3 linked regions of the Homo sapiens genome follow. The protein of the gene in region 2 interacts with the protein of the main gene of each other region in a pairwise test. Each region holds a gene or a part of one and is shown on either strand. Other genes may lie near its edges.

Region 1 (7,184 bases), on a different chromosome or scaffold from region 2:
ACTCTCCCAGGCATGTGCACCTGTCTGTACATGTGTGCATGTGTGTGTGTGTGCGTGTGTGTGTTTCCCTGGCACTCACAGCATCACCATCTGCCAGGCTGGGTGGGGCGCAGATGAGGAAGACCAAGGAAGTTCCACACGACCTGCCTCGCCATGATGAGTGAGCGTGAGCTGCCTCCTGTGTGCCCTGCCTGCCCAGAGATCCCGGGGACATCACCTGGCTGACAAAGTCTGCAGCTGCCAGCAGTCGGCCAGGAATGCCGCATGGCCAGGTGTCTCATACTGGCGTGGGTGTCGTGCGGCCTCACGCGGCCCTTGAGCTATTTCCAGGTGTGGGTATCATCTCCCAGCGAGGTGCTCAGCCCTGGGGTGGGACAGACCGTTTCCTTCTGGCTCCCTGCAGAGCTTGTGGGCCCCTCCACCCACCCTGCAGTCCCCAAACTCCAGGGACTTGGAGGTCCCCAAGGAAAGGACATGGCAGTGGGAGATGATGTCATGAGGGGACTTGGGCAATGGGGAGGAACACATGGCCAAGCTGGGAGGAAGAATAAGTTCATTCTCAGAGCAACGAGATTATGTGAACATGGTAAACCCAAGTGTTCTTTTTAAGTGAGATTACTGGGAAACAAAGCTGAAACTGTTCCTTCTGTGTGTGTGTGTGTGTGTGTGTGTGTGTGTGTGTGTGTGTGTGTGTTTGGGTGTCCTTCACTGTCTCCCTCCCCACTCCCGGCCTGCTTCTTCCTTCCCCAGCTTGGAATCCACGGTTGAGGCTGGTCAGGAACCATCAGGACCCAGCATGGGTAATGGCAGCTGCTGGTGCCCTAGCCCCCACTGGGTCCTACAGTAGCTGCTTGTTGGGGAAGGGGCCTGAAAAGGTGGGAGCAGAAGGAAGCCAGGGTCTTGGGGCCGTGGGCTGCCACAGCCACCACAGAAACACTCCAACTTCTCCCAGCCCTAGCAAACCAGTGGAGGTGTGTGCTGGTGCTTTGTTCCTGGGGTGGCTTGGGGCCGCCTGGCTGCCTCTCCCGAGCCTGGCCCTCACCCAGGAGGCCACACCAGCCTCGAGTGCCCACCTCCGTCCAGAGCCCCAGCTCCCCACTCCTGGGGGCTGAGCCAAGAACCCTGTGGCTGTCCCACCGTCGCCTCCCAGAGGCTTGTCCGGCGCAACAGGACAAGGAAGGACTAAGGCTTAGAGTCGGCCCGATCAGGTGACGCCTGAGCTGTCACCGCTGTCACCACTTACACACAGGGTGTGTGGACAAAGTGGTGCGTGCCAGGGAGGGCTAAGTGACCGAGGGCAGGCACGTGGCAGGCTCCTGAAGGTGGAGGTGGCGCTGACAATGGCCACCAGTGAGCAGGGCCCTGTGTGTGCTGGGGCTGACTCCAACCCCTTGGCGCTGCCACGCAGGGGCTTGGGAGGGCCCCTCCCCAGGCACATGGGAGGTGGCCCCTCCCTGACCACGGAGCCATCGTGTCTGCAGAGGCCCACCCTGCGCCCTGTGCTGCTGCCTGGGGCCAGAAGAATAAGTCGATGTGAAATGGCTTTTTCTTTCCTCACCCCCCTTTGGGAGTCAGGCCCGTTAGGAATGGAAGGGGCTGTGCTCCTGGTCCCCTGGGGGAGTGAGCTTCCCGGACTCTTGGGGGGATCTGGTAAGGTGGATGGTGGGAGGCTCGAGGGTGTCCAGAGCCTGATGGGAGGGGGTGGCAGTGGAGGGTCATCCCTCCAGGGTCTCCCTTCTGGATGTGGACACCACATGTCAGGCCTGTCACCTGGCCTTGTCACACTCCATCTCTGGGTCCCCTTCATAGGTTTTCTCGACAGGAGAATCAGGTCCCTGGATAGGAGGAGACGCCCCTCTGTGCAGTGTGGTGGGGATGTACCCCCAATCCAGCCAGGACCCACTGCAGGGGCCCAGCAGGGGCAGGCACGAGTGTGAGAGCAACATGACCCCAGCAGCTCTCGCTGTGTGCCAGGCACATGGACACGCACCACACAAACCCCACCGTGTGCCAGGCACACGGACAAGCACCGCACAAACCCCACTGTGAGCCACTAGGCACATGGACAAGCACTGCACAAACCCCACTGTGTGCCAGGCACATGGACAAGCACCGCAGAAACCCCACGCCTCAGTGACCCTCCACACCTTGCGGGACGGGCAGCCCTCAGGTGACAGAACCGAGGCTCAGAGAGGGAAAGCAACTTGTGCCAGGTCACACAGCCTCATAGCCCAGCTCGGCCTAACAAAGCCAGAGCCCTCGGGGGTGCAGGTTTCCCCACAAGTTCTGATATAATGTTGGGGCTCTCCCGGCCCAGGGACACAAGCTCCCAGCTCTCTGCATCAAGGAAGGAGACCAGGAGAAGCTCCCCCAGCAATGACAGCTACGAGGCTGCAAATCTCTCCCTCCCTCCACCATTTGTGCAATGTCTTTTGTCCCCACTTCTCTTCACCAGCCTCCCACCACTAACCCAGGGGACCCACAAGGGGCTCACAGTGTTGGTGTGGACCCTCTGTGGGCCTCCTGATGGCAGCAGCGCCTGGGGAAAGAGGGCTGAGCTGAGGCCTGGCACAGGCAGGGCCCCCAGCAGCCCCTGCCCTTACAATGGGATGCTGGCTCAGGTGCCCGAAGCCCAAAGGAGGTGGCCCGGAAGGTTGGAGCTTCAATCGAAGGCCTGTTCTCTGCCCGCAGCCAGGCCCAGGGCTGTGGCAAAGGAGGGTGGTGCCCCAGCCAACACCACTGTCCCTGCCGGCCAGCAGCCACGGCCCCGGCTGGAAGGGAGCAAGGCTCTGCCTGGCTTCTGTGGTCTTTGGGGGAGGGCACGTGGGCCCAGCAGGCAGCTTGCGCTGCGCTCAGGGCACAGATGGTTCTCATTCCCGTTGCCTCCCTTACACAGGAAAAACAAACCAGCCCGGGGCCAACAGACCCCTTTTTAACCTCGTGTTTATTTTCCTTCCCATGCTTGAAAACGCTGACTGTCCTGTGGGCGGCAGCTGCTGAGGGTCTTGCCAGGACGGCACTTTCCTGACCTCAGGGCAGCTCTCCCAGGGAGGGGCTGGGGTGCACGGAGGGGCCCCGAAGGAATGCAGCCCATTTCCTGCTCCTGGACTTCTCCGAGTCATACCCGGGGTCGCAGCTGCCTTTCAAGGGCCTGGAGTCTCCTGACACCACCGGAAGGCCCAGGATGCTGTCGGGGGCAGGACAGAACCCGGGGAGGCCGGCTGTGGGCCTCGCTGGCTGCGGAGAACCCCCCAAGCCATCGGGAGCTGAGGGTGGGTGGAGGGGAAGCCACGTCACACCACATAGGCCCACAGGGCTCCAAGAATTCAGAGGAGGAGGAGGAGGCGGTAGGGGCTGGGGTCCCGGGACCCCGGGTGGGCACAGCCTACTGTGCCACCTGCATCCTCCCTAAGCCTGCACAGTGCCCAGGAGGAAGGAAGGGGCAGGCTGCATCCCCATTCCGGGGGAGCTTGGGAGGGGAATGTGGCCACCCAGGGTCTCAGAGGTGGGGGGCTTACCAACCGTCCCACAGGCCAAGCAGAGCCTGTATTTGTCATCGGTGCCCCAGGTTTCTCTAAAGCAGGCAGACAGCATCCCCACGGCCTGCGCCCCATGGCCCAAGGCAGAAGTTTGGAGAAGGGGGCAAAGCCACGTTGGGGCTGCACAGAAGAGGAGGGTAGGACCCCCGAGGCGTAGGGCGCCCACCAAGAAAGGCAAGGAGGCCTCAGCAGCCCCTCCCCACGTGGGTGAGGCTGCGGGGCTCACCAGGCGGCCTGTGGATGAAAGGAGCCCAGAGGCCAGTGTGGCTGCACTGTGACCCAGGGACCCCCGCGGGCCCTCAGAAGTCCCCAGGGGACCAGCAGCAAGGCCAGGCCCAGGCCCTCTCCCCTGCATTCCCTGGGGTGGGGTGGGCTGGGGCCCACACCCCCTCCCCCCTCCCCCCTCCCCGGGGACTGCCCGCCTCACGGCGCCCCTCCCCCCGCGTCCGCCCCGCCCCCCGCAGAGGGAGGCACGCGGCGGTGGCCGCCCGGTCCGCGCCCCCTCCCCGCGCGGGCGGCGGTGACATCACGGCCACGGCGGCGGGAGGGGCGGCGGCGCCCCGCGCACATCACTTCCTCGGCGCCTCCCCGGGGGAGGACGGGCGAACGAGGCGCGGACGGACAGGCGGACAGCAGGGCGGACAGCAGGGAGGACAGCAGGGCGGGCAGGGGGCGGACGGCCACGGCGCGGGGGGCGCTCCCGGCTCCCGCTCCCGCGTCCCCGACCCATGGCGGGCCCGGCCCCGCCCGCGGCCGACGAGCTCCCGGGCCCGGCCGCCAGGCGCCTCTACTCCAGGTAGGACGGGCCGGGGCCGGGGCCGGGGCCGGGGCTGGGACCGGACCGGGCCGGGTCGGGACGCGGGGGAGGCTGCAGTTGGGAACAAAGGCAGCTCTCGCGGGCGCGCAGCGTGGCTGAGGACGCGCCCCTCCCTCCAGGCCGAGCCCAGCCCGGCGTGTGCCCGCGTGGGCGTCCCCTGAAGCCCTCTTTCCCCCAAGCCAAGGGGAAGGGGGTGGGGGGCCGGGGGGCTGGAGGCGGGGTGGGCAGCTTCTCCAGCCTCACTCCCCTGGCACCTGGCAGGGGCACCGTGGGGTGCTTCCCTCCCAAGCCTGGCCCTGCCATGCCCGGGGCACTCAGGGGCATCATGGCCAAAGAGACCTGGCTGCTCTGGATGGGGCTCTGCCCCTCACCAGCCCTCCACGAGCCCAGTGGGATCCAGCTGGGTTGGAAGGGAGCCAGCCAGGTGGGTGTGTACCTGCCTGAAAAGGCATCTACTCTCCGGGCACATTCCTGGGTGATCCCAGTGACTGGGCTCTGTGCCCCACGCCTTTGGGGATGACAGGGTGGCCCTGCCCCAGGTGGCATGCCTGCCTGGTGACTCCCAATGTCCCCCCAGGGGCTGCCCTGGGCCCAGCCGGGCAGGTGCCTGGAGCCCCAAGCAAGGCTGGGTGGTACCAGGCCTCAGGCAGAGCCACACGAGCGTGAGGTCCAGGCAGGGGCTTGCGAATGGGTGGCAGCCGTCAGAGGCAGGCCTGGCTCCCCAGAGCGAGGGACACTATTGTCCTCTGGACATCCCTAAAACCTGGTGACCTCCCTGATAGGGGTCCCAGCAGCTGATCCCGGGGGGCGCCTAGCCTGGCCCCCAAGGATTCTCTGGCCCCAGCCAAGCAGCAAGCCTCTGCCTGGGGCACCCGAAATGAGGTACTGGTGGCGGCACGGCGGACAGAGGCCTTGCTGCCTCCGGTCTGCTCTCTGCTTTGGTCCCAGACACAGCCCCATTGTGCCGTCCTGGATGGAGCGCTGAGCCCCTAGCCTGGCTCCTGGGCCCCACGCAGGGGAGGGGCGTGAGGGTGATTTTGCTGGCAGCTGCTGCCAGGGGCCTGCCCTAAAGGATTTTCAAGGGTTTCCTCCGCTGATCTGATCGGCTGTGCAGGGCCGCATGTGCTCCAGGGCGGCCGTGCTGTGAGGGGGATGGATAGCAGCCCTGGCTGGAGTGAGTTTGAGTGTGAGTGTGTGGAGCTGTGAGAGAGTGTGTGTGTGGAGCTGTGAGAGACGGGTGTCCAAGACCTTAGCCTTGGGTGAGGCCTGCACAGCTGACCATAGAGTTGGGCATTCTCCAGGCTACAGCTAGAAGCCTGGGGTCCCCTGGGGACACGCCAGGCAGGAGCCAGCCCCTGGCAGGGGCAGTGCTCAGGGGGACCACTCAGAGAGACCCCAGACCCAGCCTTGCATCCCCCTAAGCAGGGAGTCCAGTTGAGCTCCAGGGTGGAGTCAGGCCCAGACTTGGGGGAAGCGCGCCAAGCCCTCCAGCAGGGCCTGTGACGAGGTCCCCCCGGGAGTCTGCACCCCACCGTGTAGCCACAGCCCGGTTTGGGCAGGCGGTTCCTGGTCGGAGCTGGCTTCAGAGCATGGATGCCTAGACGTGTTCTGGGCCAGTGGAAGCTGCGGGCCAGACGGGAGGGCCCTTTGCTGTCATGCTGGGGCTGGAGAGCAAGACACGGAAAAGTCTCCTGTCTCCTGAAACCCGAGTGCTGGGGGCGGCCCACCTGCTGGCGTGGGCGGTGGGCATGTGGATGCCCTGGAGGTGGGCGGAATCCGTGTGGGCACTCCTCACGTGGCTGTACTGGGGTCCCTCAATGTGGATGGGGCTCCAGGTTGGCCCAAGGTCTCCTCTGCCCCGTCTACTGCCTTCCCACACTGACATTCCTTCCTGGAGAGAGGAGTTTCAGCTTTTAAAATGGGGAACTGTGCCTGGAAAACACACTGACAGCGAGGCCCATGAATGTGCCCATGAGCCCACTGGGTACCCTGAGGGGCCCTGGGTGCTGGGTCGGTGGGGACGGGCCCCTGGGTTCTGGGTCGGTGGGGACGGGGCCCTGGGTGCTGGGTCGGTGGGGACGGGCCCCTGGGTGCTGGGTCGGTGGGGACGGGGCCCTGGGTGCTGGGTCGGTGGGGACGGGCCCCTGGGTGCTGGGTCGGTGGGGACGGGCCCTTGGGTTCTGGGTCAGTGGGGATGGGCCCTGGGTGCTGGGTCGGTGGGGACAGGGCCCTGGGTGCTACAGTTAATGCTCAGAATTCTGGCCCACTTGCCAGGGGCTCCCTGGCCCAGAGCAGGGCTTTGGGGTGAAGAGGCCTGGCGGGGACAGGCCAGTGGCTGAGAAGGCCCCGGAAAGTGGGGAAACCCTGGGTGGTCGTCTCCTGGCCTCCCACCTGCTTTAAGGCCAGCTGAGTGCTCCCCGGGGCTGGGGCCGGGAAGGGGCAGCAGAGCCACCCACCTTGGGGTGACCCTGTTAGAGATGCCCTCCAAGCAGCAGTCACCAGCTCCCAGACAGGACGTCCTCAGGTGTGGACTGGGCCCCCCGCAACCTCTCTGGCCACATGGCCATGCTACCCCCTACCTTCACTCCATCCTTCCTCCCTCCCCTGTCCCCGTCCTGGGCACCATCCCTGGTGGGTCGCTGGGCAGCGACGGGCCCTAGGAATTCCTGGCAAGCCTGACCCCAGGTGCTTCCTACAGCTGGGTGACCTTCAGTCCCCTCTCCAGTGATTCCAGCTCCCGCTGTGCTCCCAGCCCGGTCCTGCGCCTCACTCTCTCCCCTCCCCTGGCCACTGAAGGGGAGTCGGTGTGGTTTTCCCTGGGGGTGTCT
Region 2 (7,319 bases):
TGGTAACCAGACTTGTACCCGATATTATTAATACATTCCTGATTTCACACACACACAAAGTGTGTTTGGTGGTTGTTTTTTAAGTACCGTGGTGGGGAGGAAGGGGAATTTTTTTTTTTAATCAAAGCAAATAGTTTTGTTTTTGTTTTTGTTTTTTTGTTTCTTTGTTTGCCTATTTCCTTTAACCTGACAAGTATGCGTACCAATGGCTAGGCTGATTCGGATAGGTGGCCAGTTGTGTGAACACGGTGGCAAAATTAAATTGGACTAGAGTTTTCCACAAAAAACAAAAAAAAGACCCCTCCAATCCAAACATCCTTTGTGTAAAAATCAACTTGTATTATAACTAGACCTGTGAGTATTTCAAGTCATAATATGTACGGAAGATATTTGTCTACACCAAAGCAAAACATAACAAAACCAGAACCCCTGTTAGCCCAGGACTTGCACACATTTCTAGTCCGTTCAAAACAATGTTTATGTCAAAGCCTGTCATATCAATTTCCTGGAAAGTATAATGTAAACATTCTTACATTAATTTACCTATTTTAATCTAAACCAAGGAAATTCAAACGCAAGTTTTTTTCCTTTTCAATGAATGGACTTTTGTAATATTAAACTAGTAATCAAGACAGGAACAGCTGTGAGTATAAGCTATTGTGAGTCAATACAAATATAATACCAGGGCAAGAAAGAAACAATGAATAATAAGAAGCAATAAACAAAATACTACAGTTTAAATGAATTTTAAGAGAATATTTAAAAATTAGAGTTTTCATAATATTAGATAGAAAACTTAATCATCTATTATTTTCAGGCTTTGGGGGAAAACATGTCCTTCCAAAGTCTATGGTGCAATGCATTCAAATCTTTAAGAGAAATTAAAAATAACAGAATAGGCAAAATACCTTTTATCTGGTTTTTTTTTTACTTTGATTAGCTTCTTTTACTAACATGTTTTGTCTTAATATAATTTATGGCAACTTGAAATGCATACTCTAATTCTTCTCAAACTAAATATAGTAGAGGCTCTATGACATTTCTTTGGATACCAGAATCCCTTTAGAAATTAATTGATTTGCCTTTTACATAAAAAAGTTTTATTTATTTATGTTTTTGACGGGTCAGGTCTCTCTAGGAACATTCCAAAAGCACAGAGACAAGAACTATTCTAGCACTGCAATAAGACCAAAAATTAATTTCTATGCATTTTCAGAGGTAACTTTAAATCACCATTTTAAAGTTATTTTTAGAACATTTGAAAGGATAAGTTATCTTAGACTACAACATTTAATGAAATACTATAATTAAAATGGATAATCAATAAATTTTCATTCAATTTTGGAAGACAAAACAACACGAAAAGCAACTGAATCAACAGGAGTTTCGGGGACCTTTGGCAGACAGTTAATAAGATGAAAAATCTGTGAATGAAACTCGTGGGTGAAGAGTAGACAGATCTCTTCGTTCCCAGCTAGACCTCAGTGGCGACCATTTGAGAGTGATTTTAATCAGAAACCTTGACTGACAGGACCTTTTAGGAGGGGAGAACTTCGGGAGAAAGGAGGCTGGGAATGAACAAATCACTTTCTTCTGCTAGGACCCTTCGGCTTTGACTGGGAGGAGGACCCCAGCTAGAAGATAAAGGAGGAAAAAATCGCGAGGAACTGCTCGAAGTTGGCCTTTCTTCCCAACAGAGTTCGCTGGTCCGCTGCCACTGGCAGGCTTCTCTGACCGACTGGGATACTTTTTCTTTCTTCTTTCCTTTTCTTTTTTTTTTCTTTTTCTTTTCTTTCTCCTTCCTTGCTTCCTTCCTCTCTCTCTCTCTCTTTCTTTCTGTCTTTCTTTCCTTCCTTTTTTTTTTTTTTTTTTTTGAGACAGGGTCTCGTTCTGTCGCCCAGGCTCGGCGCTATCTCAGGTTACTGCAACCACTGCCTCCTGGATTCAAGCGATCCTCCCGCCTCAGCCTCCCAAGTAGCTGGGACTACAGGCACACGCCACCATGCCCGGCTTTTTTTTTTTTTTTTTTTTTCGAAGAGACAGGGTTTCGCCATGTTGCCCAGTCTGGTCTTGCACTCCTGGGCTCAAGCGATCCTCCCGTCTCGGCCTCCCAAAGTGCTGGGATTACAGGCATGAGCCACTGCGCCCAATCGCGGGATGGACTTTTCTAAGCAAGCCTCACTGTGCCTTTGGCGCGGGAAGTAAAAGGACAGGGAGCGTGGACCACCCTTAGCTTCCTGATGTGGTTTCGCTCTTCCTTTATCCGCCTTTTGCCAACCGAAGGCACTAATCCTGCAAGAGGCGTTGGCATGGGCGCCCTCCTGGCCGAGTCCCGGGCAGCACCCGTCCGTGCGCTCAGCACGGGCTTTGCGGTGCCAAGGCCTAGGGTGCGTCGCTTCCCGGGTCTGGAGGGTCATGGATTCGGTTCATCCTCCTCTATCAAGGGATCTGCCGTGAGGAGTTGGCTCCTCTTCTCTGGCTGGGGCTGGGAATGGAAGCGTGCAGCTGCAAAACAAGGACGCGGGCAATAAATTCCAGAAGCCCTTTCCCCTGGCCGCCAAGAATCCGGCCTTGGGGTAGTCAAAGAGTGACTTTAGTCACTTCAATCGGTTTTGTTTTGTTTTGTTTGTTTTTTGTTTTTTGTTTTTTTTATATATATATATACTGAGGGTCTCCATGTGCCGGAGTAGCCCTGGGCGAGTCGGCTGCTCAGATGATGAAGGTTTCGTCCCAGCCCCGGAGAACCCACATTGTCCTGCGCACCTCCGCACCACCGCGATTCTCTAGTCCTCCAAAGCCTCCCAAGACTGTAATGGAGTAAATTCAATTTCGTCGTGATATTTCCAAGACTATATCAGTGAAGTTTTTTTTTAAGAGTTGTGGGCCGGGCGCGGTGGCTCACGCCTTTAATCCCAGCACTTTGAGAGGCCGAGACAGGAGGATCACGAAGTCAAAAAATCGAGACCATCCTGGCCAACTTGGTAAAACCCTGTCTCTACTAACAATACAAAATTAGCTGGTCGCGATGGCGCGCCTGTAGTTCCAGCTACTCGGGAGGCTGAGGCAGGAGAATCGTTTGAACCTGGGAGGCGGAGGTTGCAGTGAGCCGAGATTGCGCCACTGCACTCCAGCCGGGAAGACAGAGTGAGACTCCGTCTCAAAAAAAAAAAAAAAAAAAAAGATTTGTGTTCGGGTGGGTGGCAACTGAGAGCTCGCCGAACCACAACCTCTTATTTAACAGATAAACAGATAAGGAAGCTGAGACCCAGAGGGAGCCAAAGCAGTGGAGAAAGCGAGTTCTTTGGGACTTTTCCCCTCTCCCCTTTCCCTCCTTCCCCAGGCTCCCACCTACCCCAGGCTCCCACCTACCCCGGGCTCATTTCCGCCCCCCACCTCCTCCAGGTTCACTTTGTAGGACTCCGTTCCTGCAGGGCCAGGTCCCTCCGAAGTCCCCGGGAGCGTGAAGGCGCCTGGGCTCGCGAGCATACGCGGAGGCTTGGCGCACCCTGGCACGTCCCAAACAGCAGAGCCAAGACTGCGAGACACTCACAATAGTTAGGGGAAGAGCCGGCAGTGGAGGCCCAAAATGGGCTGACCCCTAACTAGGAGGCGTGGGCGCGGTTATTCAGGCTAGGGCGCACGCGGACGGCAGAGGGGCCCACGCACGGTTCCCATGCTCTCCTGGAATTGAGTGTTGGCTCTCAGGGGACTTTGCTGGAAAGCCTCCATCTAAGCCCCTTTCCGAAATCAGGGAAGCTGGACGCGTTTAGAAAAAAGAAAAAAAATAGGCCGGTCGCGGTTGCTCACGCCTGTAATCCCAGCACTTTGGGAGGCCCAGGCGGGCAGATCGTCAGGAGTTCAAGACCAGCTTGGTCAGGGTTTCGCATGGCTAAAACCTGTCTCTACTAAAAATACAAAAATTAGCCAGGGTGGTGGCACGGACCTGTATTCCCAGCTACTCGGGAGGTTGAGGCAGGAGAATCGCTTGAACCTGGGAGGCAGAGGTTGCAGTTAGCTGAGATGGCGCCACTGCACTCTAGCCTGGGCAACAGAGTGAGACAAAAAAGAAGAAAAGAAAAGAAGAAAATAATAAGGTTTTAAACTTAAAGGATACATTCCTACTTACCCTCTCCACCCCCACCCTCTGGCTGCAGTTTCCATTTGCTTCCAGGGCTGAGTTTAACCTCCACCTCCGTTCCTGGGACTGTGGTGGAGGGGGCGACCGGCCCCTGGAGCGTGGGCGCTAGCGAGGTAGGCGAGACAGGGCGGAGCCCCCCGGAGGTATATCTTTATAAAGGAGGGGGCAGCTGCCAGAGGTCGATGCTGCCGTTCGGGTGGAGAACGTTCAGCACCGCGGCCAAGGACAAGGCCCCGCCCGGGTCCATAACCATTGTCCCCAGCTTCCAGATATCTAAACAGCCTCTCTCTCTTTCTCTCTCTCTGCACCTCCCCTTCACACACCCCACTTTCTTCTTTAAAGAGAAGAAAAAAAACCCACCTGGCGCACCTGTCCTTTTTTCTTCTATTTTTCAGAACCCTGGGCGGAAAGCGCGAGCGAGTTGGGCAGATGCCGGCGGCCGCGGTGCAGGAAGCGGTCGGCGTGTGCTCCTACGGGATGCAGCTCAGCTGGGACATCAACGATCCGCAGATGCCTCAGGTAAGTGAACCGGGTGTGTGCGGGCACGCGGGGCGCTGTCCATCCGAAGGAGGGAGAATGGCATTCGAGTTCTTGAAGAGTCTGCGGACGGACCATACACACACACACACACACACACACACACACACACACACACACACACACACACATACCCGCAAAATTTCTGGGTTTCTGAGGCCCTCTCAAGTGTAGAAAGAAAACTGGACTCTACAAAAGGCTGAGTTGGGTTTAGAAATGTGTCTTCTTGGCCGGGCGCTGTGGTTCATACCTGTAATCCCAGCACTTTGGGAGGCTGAGGCGGGTGGATCATCTGAGGTCGGGAGTTCAAGACCAGCCTGACCAACATGGAGAAACCCCGTCTCTACCAAAAATACAAAATCAGCCCAGCGTGGTGGCGCATGCCTAAAGTCGCAGCTACTCGGGAGGCTGAGGCAGGAGAATCGCTTGAACCCGAGAGGCAGAGGTTGCGGTGAGCCAAGATCACGCCATTGAACTCCAGCCTGGGCAACAAGAGCAAAACTCCATCTCAAAAAAAGAAGAAGAAGAAGAAGAAGAAATGTGTCTTCTCCCAGCAATTTCCTTGTGCTTGCCTGAAATCACAAGCAAAGCAGCAGGAAATGTTGGTCAGGCTCCACATTCCCAGTCTTGGGGAGAGCGGGACGCCTGTCCTTTCACTTCCCTTTAACCAAGGTAGAAATTAGGTGCCTCTCTCCTTATTCATTTACTTTAAATCCATGAGGAAGCTAAGGAGAAAATCTAAGCAGATGTAAATACCACTGCTTCTCATGCAGCAAAACTGAGGTACAACTGTAAAGTGAATCTAATGACCTAAATTTAAAACAAGTAGCCCGACTTGAGCAATTTGCTCAGACCTCCCTAACTGCTCAGAGGAAGGAGGCCCCATAGTCATGCCAACAAGGCCACCTGTACCCAAAACTTACTTCTTCTCTAATGACAAGCAAATCATCATTCTTTTAGGGTGAATTTGTTGTATTTTGCTTTATTTCAATAAAGCAAAAATGGTTTGGAGCCAAGTCCAAAGAATGACTGGGGTGGATGAAGTGGTGAATGAAGTGGGTGGTTTGAAGCCAGTTCCAGAGAATGACCAATTATCATTAGTCACACTGGTTAGGGCCAAAATTGAGTGATGTTGAAGTCCTGGCTGTAGGGGGTGGGGGGTGTAGAATGAGAGTTGCTTCCCTGCCATTTGCAGATGTGGGCTTCCAGCAATGTTGTGGCACAGGGATAAAAGAGATGGGTCATTTTGTCCGCAACTAAAATGTGTCTGATAGGTGTTCAGATGAATAACAATTCATTGCAACATTGTGTCGCCTCTCATAGAGGTCAGCACTTTTTTGGATCCATATATTTGTAGTAGGTTAGGTGTGTTTTACTCCTTTGTTTTTGTTTGTTTGTTGGGGTTTTTTGTTGTTGTTTGTTTGTTTTTTGAGGCGGGGTTTAGCTCTTGTTGCCTAGGCTGGGGTGCAATCACACGATCTCAGCTCACTGCAACCTCCATCCCCCAGGCTCCAGCGATTCTCTTGCCTCAGCTTCCCGAGTAGCTGGGACTACAAGCATGCGCCACCACGCCCAGCTAATTTTGTATTTTTAGTAGAGATTGGGTTTCTCCATGTTGGTCAGGCTGGTCTCGAACTCCTGACCTCAGCTGATCCACCCGCCTTAGCCTCGCAAAGTGCTGGGATTACAGGCGTGAGCCACCGTGCCTGGCCCACTCCTTTGTTTTAAAGTCTGCCTACTTTAGAGTCACATGGTACCATTTTCATGAAAGTGGACCACAGTACAGCAAGTGCATCTCATTCTGTTTCTGTCCATGTACATCTTCACAGGAAACAATCATATCTTGCATTTTAGAAAAGTCACATCCAAGTAATGTAATTATGGTTCATCTCTCAAGCATTTGCTAGACTTCCCATGTCAATATGAACTTTTTTTTAGGAGACTGGTTGTTAAGCAGGAAGCATGTGTGTAATATCTCAAACGGGCCAGGCACACTGGGACATGGAGAAGTGAAGAAACTTAGCATCGCCCTGCTCTGGGTAACCGAGTGAGCAAGTTAAACTACCTGTCTGACCTTGAGAGAGTCCTTGAATTTGCCTTAGTCTCAGGCTACTTACTCACTTGTCATCAAGTGGTAGAGTGAGATAACCATCTCAAACTCTCCTCCAGGTCTACGATCAGGTTCAGTGTCTATGTGTGTGTATGTACACACACACACAACATGCCAACACTTGAGAGCAAGTGAAACCCAATCCTTGACATCCTCTATTCTTGTACTGATTTTAAAAATACAATCTCTGTGGCTTCATTGCCAGGGTCACTACCTCAGTAGCTCGTGTGAGGCATGGGGGCCTAGTCTACATCCTTAAGGGAGAGCTAAAGAAATGCTGTTTTCTGGAAAATTGTCAATTTGTTACTAAGATCCTTAAGTTAAAATATTCACTTTTAAAACAAAGATATTAGCATTTAATATAAGCTTGGAGTTGATAGCACATCATTATATATTTCATTTGTGACTTACCTTACATTGATGTATCATGTCAATTGTAATATTTCAGAGAAAAGATAAATAATACCTATGGTAGTAATAATGATTTCAACAATATCTTTGTAATTTTGGAAACAAAATCACCCATTAACCTTA
Region 3 (7,244 bases), on a different chromosome or scaffold from region 2:
CCAAGGCGGGTGGATCACGAGGTCAGGAGTTGAAGACCAGCCTGGCCAGCATGGTGAAACCCCATCTCTAATAAAAATACAAAAAGCATTAGCCGGGTGTGGTGGCGGGCGCCTGCAGTCCCAGCTACTTGGGAGGCTGAGGCAGGAGAATTGCTTGAACCCAGCAGGCAGAGGTTGCAGTGAGCTGAGATCATGCCACTGCACTCCAGCCTGGGTGACAGAATAAGACTCCATCTCAAAAAAAAAAAAAAAAAAATTAGCCGGGCGTGGTGGTGTGCACCTGTAATTCCAGCTACTTGGGAGGCTGAGGCAGGAGAATTGCTTGAACCCAGGAGGTGGAGGCTGCAGTGAGCCAAGATTGCACCACTGCACTTCAGCCTGGGCAACAGAGTGAGACTGTCTCAAATTAAAAAAAAAAAAAAAAAAAAAAACAGGCTTCTGCATGTGAGAACTGCCTGTGCCTGACAGTGTCACAGCAGGATCTTCAAGGGAACCAGGAAATCTCCATTCCCCGAACCCTGCCACACATGAGACTCTACTTCCTTCTGGAACCAGCTCCCCTGATGCCTTTTTTCTCCCCTCGGGCATTTTGCCTCTTTTTCAGGTGTATCCAGGGCAGCAGTATCTGCAAGGAGGCCAGTATGCACCCAGCACCGCCCAGTTTGCGCCCAGCCCTGGGCAGCCCCCTGCCCCCTCCCCTTCCTACCCTGGGCACAGGCTGCCCCTGCAGCAGGGCATGACCCAGTCCCTGTCCGTGCCTGGCCCCACGGGACTGCATTATAAGGTAGGGCAGGCTCCTCCAGGCCCTGTGCCGGGCTCCGTGCTGAGTGCTGTGGGACAGGGGACCTTGGGGCAGTCCTGTCCTCGAGAGCGACAGGGTGGCTAAAGGGGCCAGCAGGATGTGTAGGTCCATGTGTGCTCATGGACCACAGCTCTACAGGAGATGGGGGGTGGGGGGTGGGGGCATTCTGACCAGTGCAGGAGCAGCTCCTGGGGTTTGGGATCCAGTTCCGAAAGGACCCTCTACAAGATTCATATATCTCAGGGGTATCCTGTGCAGGGAGCAGCAGGTGGGTACCCAAAACATTTGAATGTTCTTTATGGAAAAGTGTCATTCCTTCTACTTGCTGCAGAGAAATCCATTGAGAGGACAGGCCCTCGCTGCTGGCCATGTACCCTTTCTGGGTGCATGGGCAGAGCCTACCTCCCTGGGAGCCTGGGTGCGCCGGGTGGTGCAGCTTGGGGGAGGAGAGGAGGAGGGCTTAGCGTGCTTTTGTCTTTTCAGCCCCTCCAACCTGTTTGATCATTTTCCTCTGTGGCTATGATTGCTTTAAGTAGTGTTACTTGTAGATTATTTGGAAAATACAAGAGAGTGTAAAGAAGACCGTGTATGGTGGGCTTCTAGGGTCAGGTCCAGGGGGCCCGGCAGGGGTCAGGTTGGAGCCCCAGGTGCATGCAGTTTTCTCTCCCGCAGCCCACAGAGCAGTTCAACGGGCAGGGCGCCAGCTTCAACGGGGGCAGCGTCAGCTACAGCCAACCTGGCCTGAGTGGGGTAGGGGGCCTGGCCGGGAGGATGGGCCGGGAGGCTCACAGGGTGGGCATATGGAGAGAGGGCGACCGGGCAGGCACCCCTGGGGCCGCCTCCTGTCCACCTCTGTTATCATGGTTCCCAGTGGGTGCGCCGTGAACAGACTCCACTCCCATCCACCCTGGCAATCTGCCTTGACTGTTTGTGCTCAACCCTACAGCCTACCCGTTCCATCCCGGGCTATCCCAGTTCCCCACTGCCAGGGAACCCCACGCCACCCATGACCCCAAGCAGCAGCGTCCCTTACATGTCACCAAACCAAGAGGTCAAGTCTCCCTTCTTGCCTGATCTCAAGCCCAACCTCAACTCCTTGCACTCATCGCCCTCTGGTAAGTCTGTCCACTCTTGGGACAGCGGGGTGACAAGGCCAGGGTGGGCATGGGGGAATCACAGGACTCCAGAGAGTCCTGTAGGAGCTTGGGGGACAGGGGATGGCTGCCATATCCCTAAGAAAAGGGCTGGGTGTGGTGGCTCACACTTGTAATCCCAGCACCTTCGGAGGCTGAGCACAAGAGTTCAAGGTTACCGTGAGTGTGATCTTGCCACTGCACTTCAACCTGGGTCCCAAAGCAAGACCCTGTCTTAAAAAAAAAAAAAAAAAAGGCCAAGGATTCCATCTTCTTAAAGACAAGTCGCTTAGTGCCAAGCCTTCACCTTTTTGTTCTGTTTGTGGCTTTCTTTGCAAAGGAGGCTGTGGCTCTTCTCTCCCCTGTGCACAAAATGTTGTATATAATTTCAGGGGATTTATGAACCCCGGAAGCCCATTCCAGGGAGACCACAGCAGCAGAAGTTGGGATCGTAGAACTCTAAACAGAGCTATAGGGCAATTGCAGGAGGCTCTCACACACCTTGGCCTCCCAGTCTCTCTGAAAGCACTGGAAACACCTTTTGTCTGGGCTGGGGACATGTTCCCCTATTATGGTTTAGGGGACACTGGGCTGGACTGCTGAGGCAGGAGGCAAGACAGAACATCACGACCGAATGCCCAGGCCTCAGGAGAGATGCTGCCCATGGCCCCAGCCCCAGGGCACCACTCAGGCCTGCCAAGCAGTGCCTGACAGGAGGGGCTCCCTTCACCAAGGTCCCTGCGGGGAAGGTGGCTGGGGAGCCGCTGCCCTCCTTGAGTGACACAAGACGCTCTGGCTGGGGCAACCCAGCTCACAGCCAGTGGCCTCTGCTCCCAGGAAGCGGGCCTTGTGACGAGTTGCGGCTGACCTTCCCTGTGCGCGATGGGGTGGTCCTGGAGCCCTTCCGCCTGCAGCACAACCTGGCTGTAAGCAACCATGTCTTCCAGCTGCGAGACTCAGTCTACAAGACCCTGATAATGAGGTGAGCTCCGCCTGGCCCCCACCTGACCCCCACGAGGCTCTGTTCCTCCTCCCACACTCTCAGGGCCCGTTTTCTGGGTGTCCACCCATCTTCCTGAGCAGGCCTGACCTGGAGCTGCAATTCAAGTGCTACCACCACGAGGACCGGCAGATGAACACCAACTGGCCAGCCTCGGTGCAGGTCAGCGTCAATGCCACGCCGCTCACCATCGAGCGTGGCGACAACAAGACCTCGCACAAGCCACTCTACCTGAAGCATGTGTGCCAGCCAGGCCGCAACACCATCCAGATCACCGTCACCGCCTGCTGCTGCGTGCGTGTCCTGCGCCGAGGGGGCGGTGCTGTGGCGTGGGGCGGGGTGTGGTGGGGCCTGGCCCAGCGGTGCCGTGGGGTGGGGCGGGGTGTGGGCGGGGCCTGGCCCAGCGGCGCAGTGGGAGCGGAGCCAGGACATGGGCGGGCCGGCCTGCAGCACCATCAGATCATGCCGCCGTCTGCTGTTTTGCTGTCCACCGCCTGCTGTAGCATGTGTGCCCCCTTGCAGGGTGGAGAGCAGGACGTGGGGGCTTTATTATTTCAGAAAAATGCGTTGCTTCTCTTTGTTACTGCCTTGTATTTCTATTTTAATCTGTCATCCTTGCCCTTTAAGAAAGCGATCCAGTAATATACCCTAGCTGTTTTCCAGTTAGAGTAAATTGACTAGATTTGATGCTCACATTAATTATGTAAGAGAAACCAGGATATGCAGAAAGCTCATGGAGCTCGGAGTCCCCGGCTGATCAAGCATTACCGGTTCTAGCAAGCATCAGGGTCACCCTTGGGCTAGAGAAGAAAGACATGGCTTATGAGTGCACTAGTCAGCCTGGGCATGAGGGCCTTGGGGACGGGTTGGCCACACACCACATTGTCTGGGATGTGGCAGATGTCAACACAGACCCAGCATCTGTGACTGTGGATGTGCGAGCAGGGGGAACGTTCAAGGGGACTTGAGGTGATTCTCTTCATGGAGAAGTGGTGACTAGGCAATGGTTAGACCGGCAGGATGCCCAGCACAGCTGTAGAGATGGATACAAGCGTGGGCAGGGCGCTGAGGCCAGGAAAGGCAGCTGGATGGGGCCAAGCCACTGAGGAGTTTTGTTGGCTGAATCCCCACCCCCAGCTCACCCTGCCCTCAGCCTTGTCCCTCCCCCACCTGGCAGCCCCTGACACACAACCCCCAGCACACCCTTTACCTGGCCAGGGTGGCCCCTGGCCCAAGTCCCCCTGATGACATCCTCCCGTTGTATTGCAGTCCCACCTCTTCGTGCTGCAGCTAGTGCACCGCCCATCCGTCCGCTCGGTGCTGCAGGGCCTCCTCAAAAAGCGCCTCCTGCCTGCTGAGCACTGCATCACCAAGAGTGAGTGGCTCCTGCCCCTCAGCTGCCAGGCAGCCATCCCCATTCTGTGTGGCCCAAGCCCAACAATCCTCCTTGTGGGCACCTCCTCGTGTCACACCAGGCCTTCTCCTTGGACAGGTGGCTCTGCAGTAGGGGCAGTGGTTAGTTCCAGGTGGCCCCTCAGAGCTGTCAGTGGGTCAGTGACTGGGTCCCTGCCTCGTTGGCATCCCCATTCACACCTCCCCATCTTGGGGACCCTTTACTCAAGTCCTTTACCTTGTTGATGTCAGTAAAGCGGAACTTCAGCAGCGGCACCATCCCTGGCACCCCTGGGCCCAACGGAGAGGACGGGGTGGAGCAGACAGCTATCAAGGTGTCCCTGAAGTGCCCCATCACCTTCCGCAGGATCCAGCTCCCTGCCCGAGGTCATGACTGTCGCCACATACAGGTAGGTGGTTACTGCAGAGTCTTGCCGGAATTTGCTGCTGCTAAAATATCTTGAGTCGATACATCAGTGTCATTCTCTGGACAGACGTGAACTCCGAGTGCCTTGGCTGTCAGGCTGACAGGACAGGCCTCCCACGCCAAGGAGGCAGGTGGGCCTGGCTCCCCCAAGACTAGGCTATTTTTTCTTCCAAATATAATTGTCATTTTACTAACTTTTTTACTGCCTGCTTCATTCATGGGTTCAAGTTTTGAAAGGCATAAGATTGCAGGGTCCAGTCTTCCTGCCCTACCCCCAAGGGTGACCATCGTTAGCATCTGTCTTTGCAGAAATACTCTGGGTATGAACAAGTAGATGCACAGCCCACTGTCTCTGTGGTTACATAGTGGTCCCTATTGCACAAACTGCTCTGTGCTGTCGTTTTTCTTCTTTTAACACCATGTTCTGAGGCTGGGCGCGGTGGCTCACACCTGTAATCCCAGCACTTTGGGAGGCTGAGGTGGGCAGATCGAGGTAAGGAGTTCGAGACCAGCCTGGCCAGCATGGTGAAACCCTGTCTCTACTAAAATTACAAAAATTAGCTGGGGCATGGTGGTGTGTGCCTGTAATCCCAGCCACTTACGAGGCTGAGGTAGGAGAATCGCTTGAACCTGGGAGGCGGAGGTTGCAATGAGCTGAGATCGAGCCACTGCATTCCAGCCTGGGTGACAGAGCGAGACTCTTGTCTCGAAACAAAACAAAAATACCATGTTCTGGAAGTGGGTCCCAGTCAGCACAGCTGCCCGATGCTTGCTTTGGCCACATGGCATTCCAGTCTCAGTGAGAGCTGTTTGGGCTGTTCCCAACCTTGATCCATTAGAATGATGTTGCAGTGAAAACCTGGTACATGCAGTATCTCAGTTATGCATGTAAATAAGTCACACATTCCTGAAAAGGGATTGCAGAGTGACCAGATTTTCCCTGTGCTACCCACAATGAGAAACTGACTTTCTTCCCATCTCTCTACAGTGCTTTGACCTGGAGTCGTACCTGCAGCTCAACTGTGAGCGGGGGACTTGGAGGTGTCCTGTGTGCAAGTGAGTCTCAGATGCAGCGTGTGATGGAGGAGGGGCTGGTGCTTTTAGAGGCTTTCATGGGTGAAACCTCCAACAGCATCATCAAAGATACGAGCCTGCTGGGAGGAGTCACTGCATGGACTGGGGTTGTGCAGCTCAGCGCAGAGAGCTCGTATAGGGTGGCCTTATGCAGGGTCATCTCATGCAGTCACCTTGTGCAGAGTCACTTCACACAGGGTCACCACATGCACAGGATCACCTCGTATTTTCACCTCACACAAGGGTCAGTCACACAGGGTCACCTTGTACTGTCACCTCACATAGGGTCAGCTCACACAGAGTTACCTTGTTCAGTTGCCTCACACAGGATTGCCTCATGCAGGGTCACAGCTGACAGGGCTGAGAAATGACAGGGCCTGTGCCCAGGACAGGGTTGTGCAAGGTCTCTGAGCTGTGTCCCTTTTTTTCCCCACAGCAAGACAGCTTTGCTGGAGGGCCTGGAGGTGGACCAGTACATGCTGGGCATCCTGATTTACATTCAGAAGTAAGCATCCTCTTCCTGTGATCCCTGCATCTGTGGCCACTGGAGGGCAGCCCCAGGACATGTCGGGGGATGTCCCTTGCCAAGTGCAGCCTTCCAGCCTTTTTCCGGCATGGAGCAGGCTGGATTCCAGGCCAGAGACAGCGTGTGTGTCCTACCTGAGTGTTGGTGCTGGGCCCAGCGTCCTGCTCGATGTGGAAGGTGCTGGGTGGAAGCAAGCATTTGAGTGGGGGAACCTGCCTGGAAACAGCCCAGGGCTGGGAGGGGCAGTGGGTGCCGGGCCAGCAGCAGGCCAGGAGGTAACCATTCCCCACCTGTCCCTGCCCAGCTCTGACTATGAGGAGATCACCATCGACCCCACGTGCAGCTGGAAGCCAGTGCCCGTGAAGCCTGACATGCACATCAAGGAGGAGCCGGATGGGCCAGCACTGAAGCGCTGCCGCACCGTGAGCCCCGCCCACGTGCTCATGCCCAGCGTGATGGAGATGATCGCCGCCCTGGGCCCCGGCGCTGCCCCCTTTGCCCCCCTGCAGCCCCCCTCAGTCCCTGCCCCCAGCGACTACCCTGGCCAGGGTAAGTACAGCAGGCTAGCCTTGAACCTCAGATGACCCTGGGCATATGGCTCCTCTCCCCAGATCAGTCTCCTCACCTGCAAGAATGTGGCTATGCAGGTCACACACCTAGGTTATCAGTGTTGCCACACAAAACATGCCGCGGGGCACCTCCAGCCCCTCCCATCTCAGGGACGTGGCGGTGAAGGCACAGTCTCAGCTATGGTCCCAGGAAACAGACAGTGGGGCCTCCACCCTTCCTTCCCCGTTTGGATTAAGGGGCTCCTGGCTGGAACACCTCACAGGACTGGCCCCATCTGGGGCCCCCCTCTGGGACCCACCTCACACGCGTGGTGCGTTTGT

Evidence for each region. The genes of interacting proteins can lie anywhere in the genome.
Region 1: the proteins of GCM2 (region 2) and GPSM1 interact in binary tests that used the Homo sapiens proteins (3 or more experiments, as listed by UniProt).
Region 3: the proteins of GCM2 (region 2) and ZMIZ2 interact in binary tests that used the Homo sapiens proteins (3 or more experiments, as listed by UniProt).

The regions. Positions count from the first base shown.
Region 1 is NC_000009.12:136,323,429-136,330,612, forward strand, and holds the start of GPSM1 (G-protein-signaling modulator 1), read left to right. Parts: upstream 1-4,110; 5' UTR 4,111-4,267; coding exon 4,268-4,335; intron 4,336-7,184. UniProt on the Homo sapiens protein: Guanine nucleotide dissociation inhibitor (GDI) which functions as a receptor-independent activator of heterotrimeric G-protein signaling.
Region 2 is NC_000006.12:10,879,042-10,886,360, reverse strand, and holds the start of GCM2 (chorion-specific transcription factor GCMb), read left to right. Parts: upstream 1-4,319; 5' UTR 4,320-4,567; coding exon 4,568-4,657; intron 4,658-7,319. UniProt on the Homo sapiens protein: Transcription factor that binds specific sequences on gene promoters and activate their transcription. Through the regulation of gene transcription, may play a role in parathyroid gland development.
Region 3 is NC_000007.14:44,758,677-44,765,920, forward strand, and holds part of ZMIZ2 (zinc finger MIZ domain-containing protein 2), read left to right. Parts: intron 1-604; coding exon 605-784; intron 785-887; exon of another isoform or gene 888-899; coding exon of another isoform or gene 900-1,070; intron 1,071-1,474; coding exon 1,475-1,552; intron 1,553-1,748; coding exon 1,749-1,917; intron 1,918-2,745; coding exon of another isoform or gene 2,746-2,772; coding exon 2,773-2,917; intron 2,918-3,018; coding exon 3,019-3,229; intron 3,230-4,204; coding exon 4,205-4,310; intron 4,311-4,579; coding exon 4,580-4,737; intron 4,738-5,742; coding exon 5,743-5,810; intron 5,811-6,264; coding exon 6,265-6,333; intron 6,334-6,658; coding exon 6,659-6,903; intron 6,904-7,244. UniProt on the Homo sapiens protein: Increases ligand-dependent transcriptional activity of AR and other nuclear hormone receptors.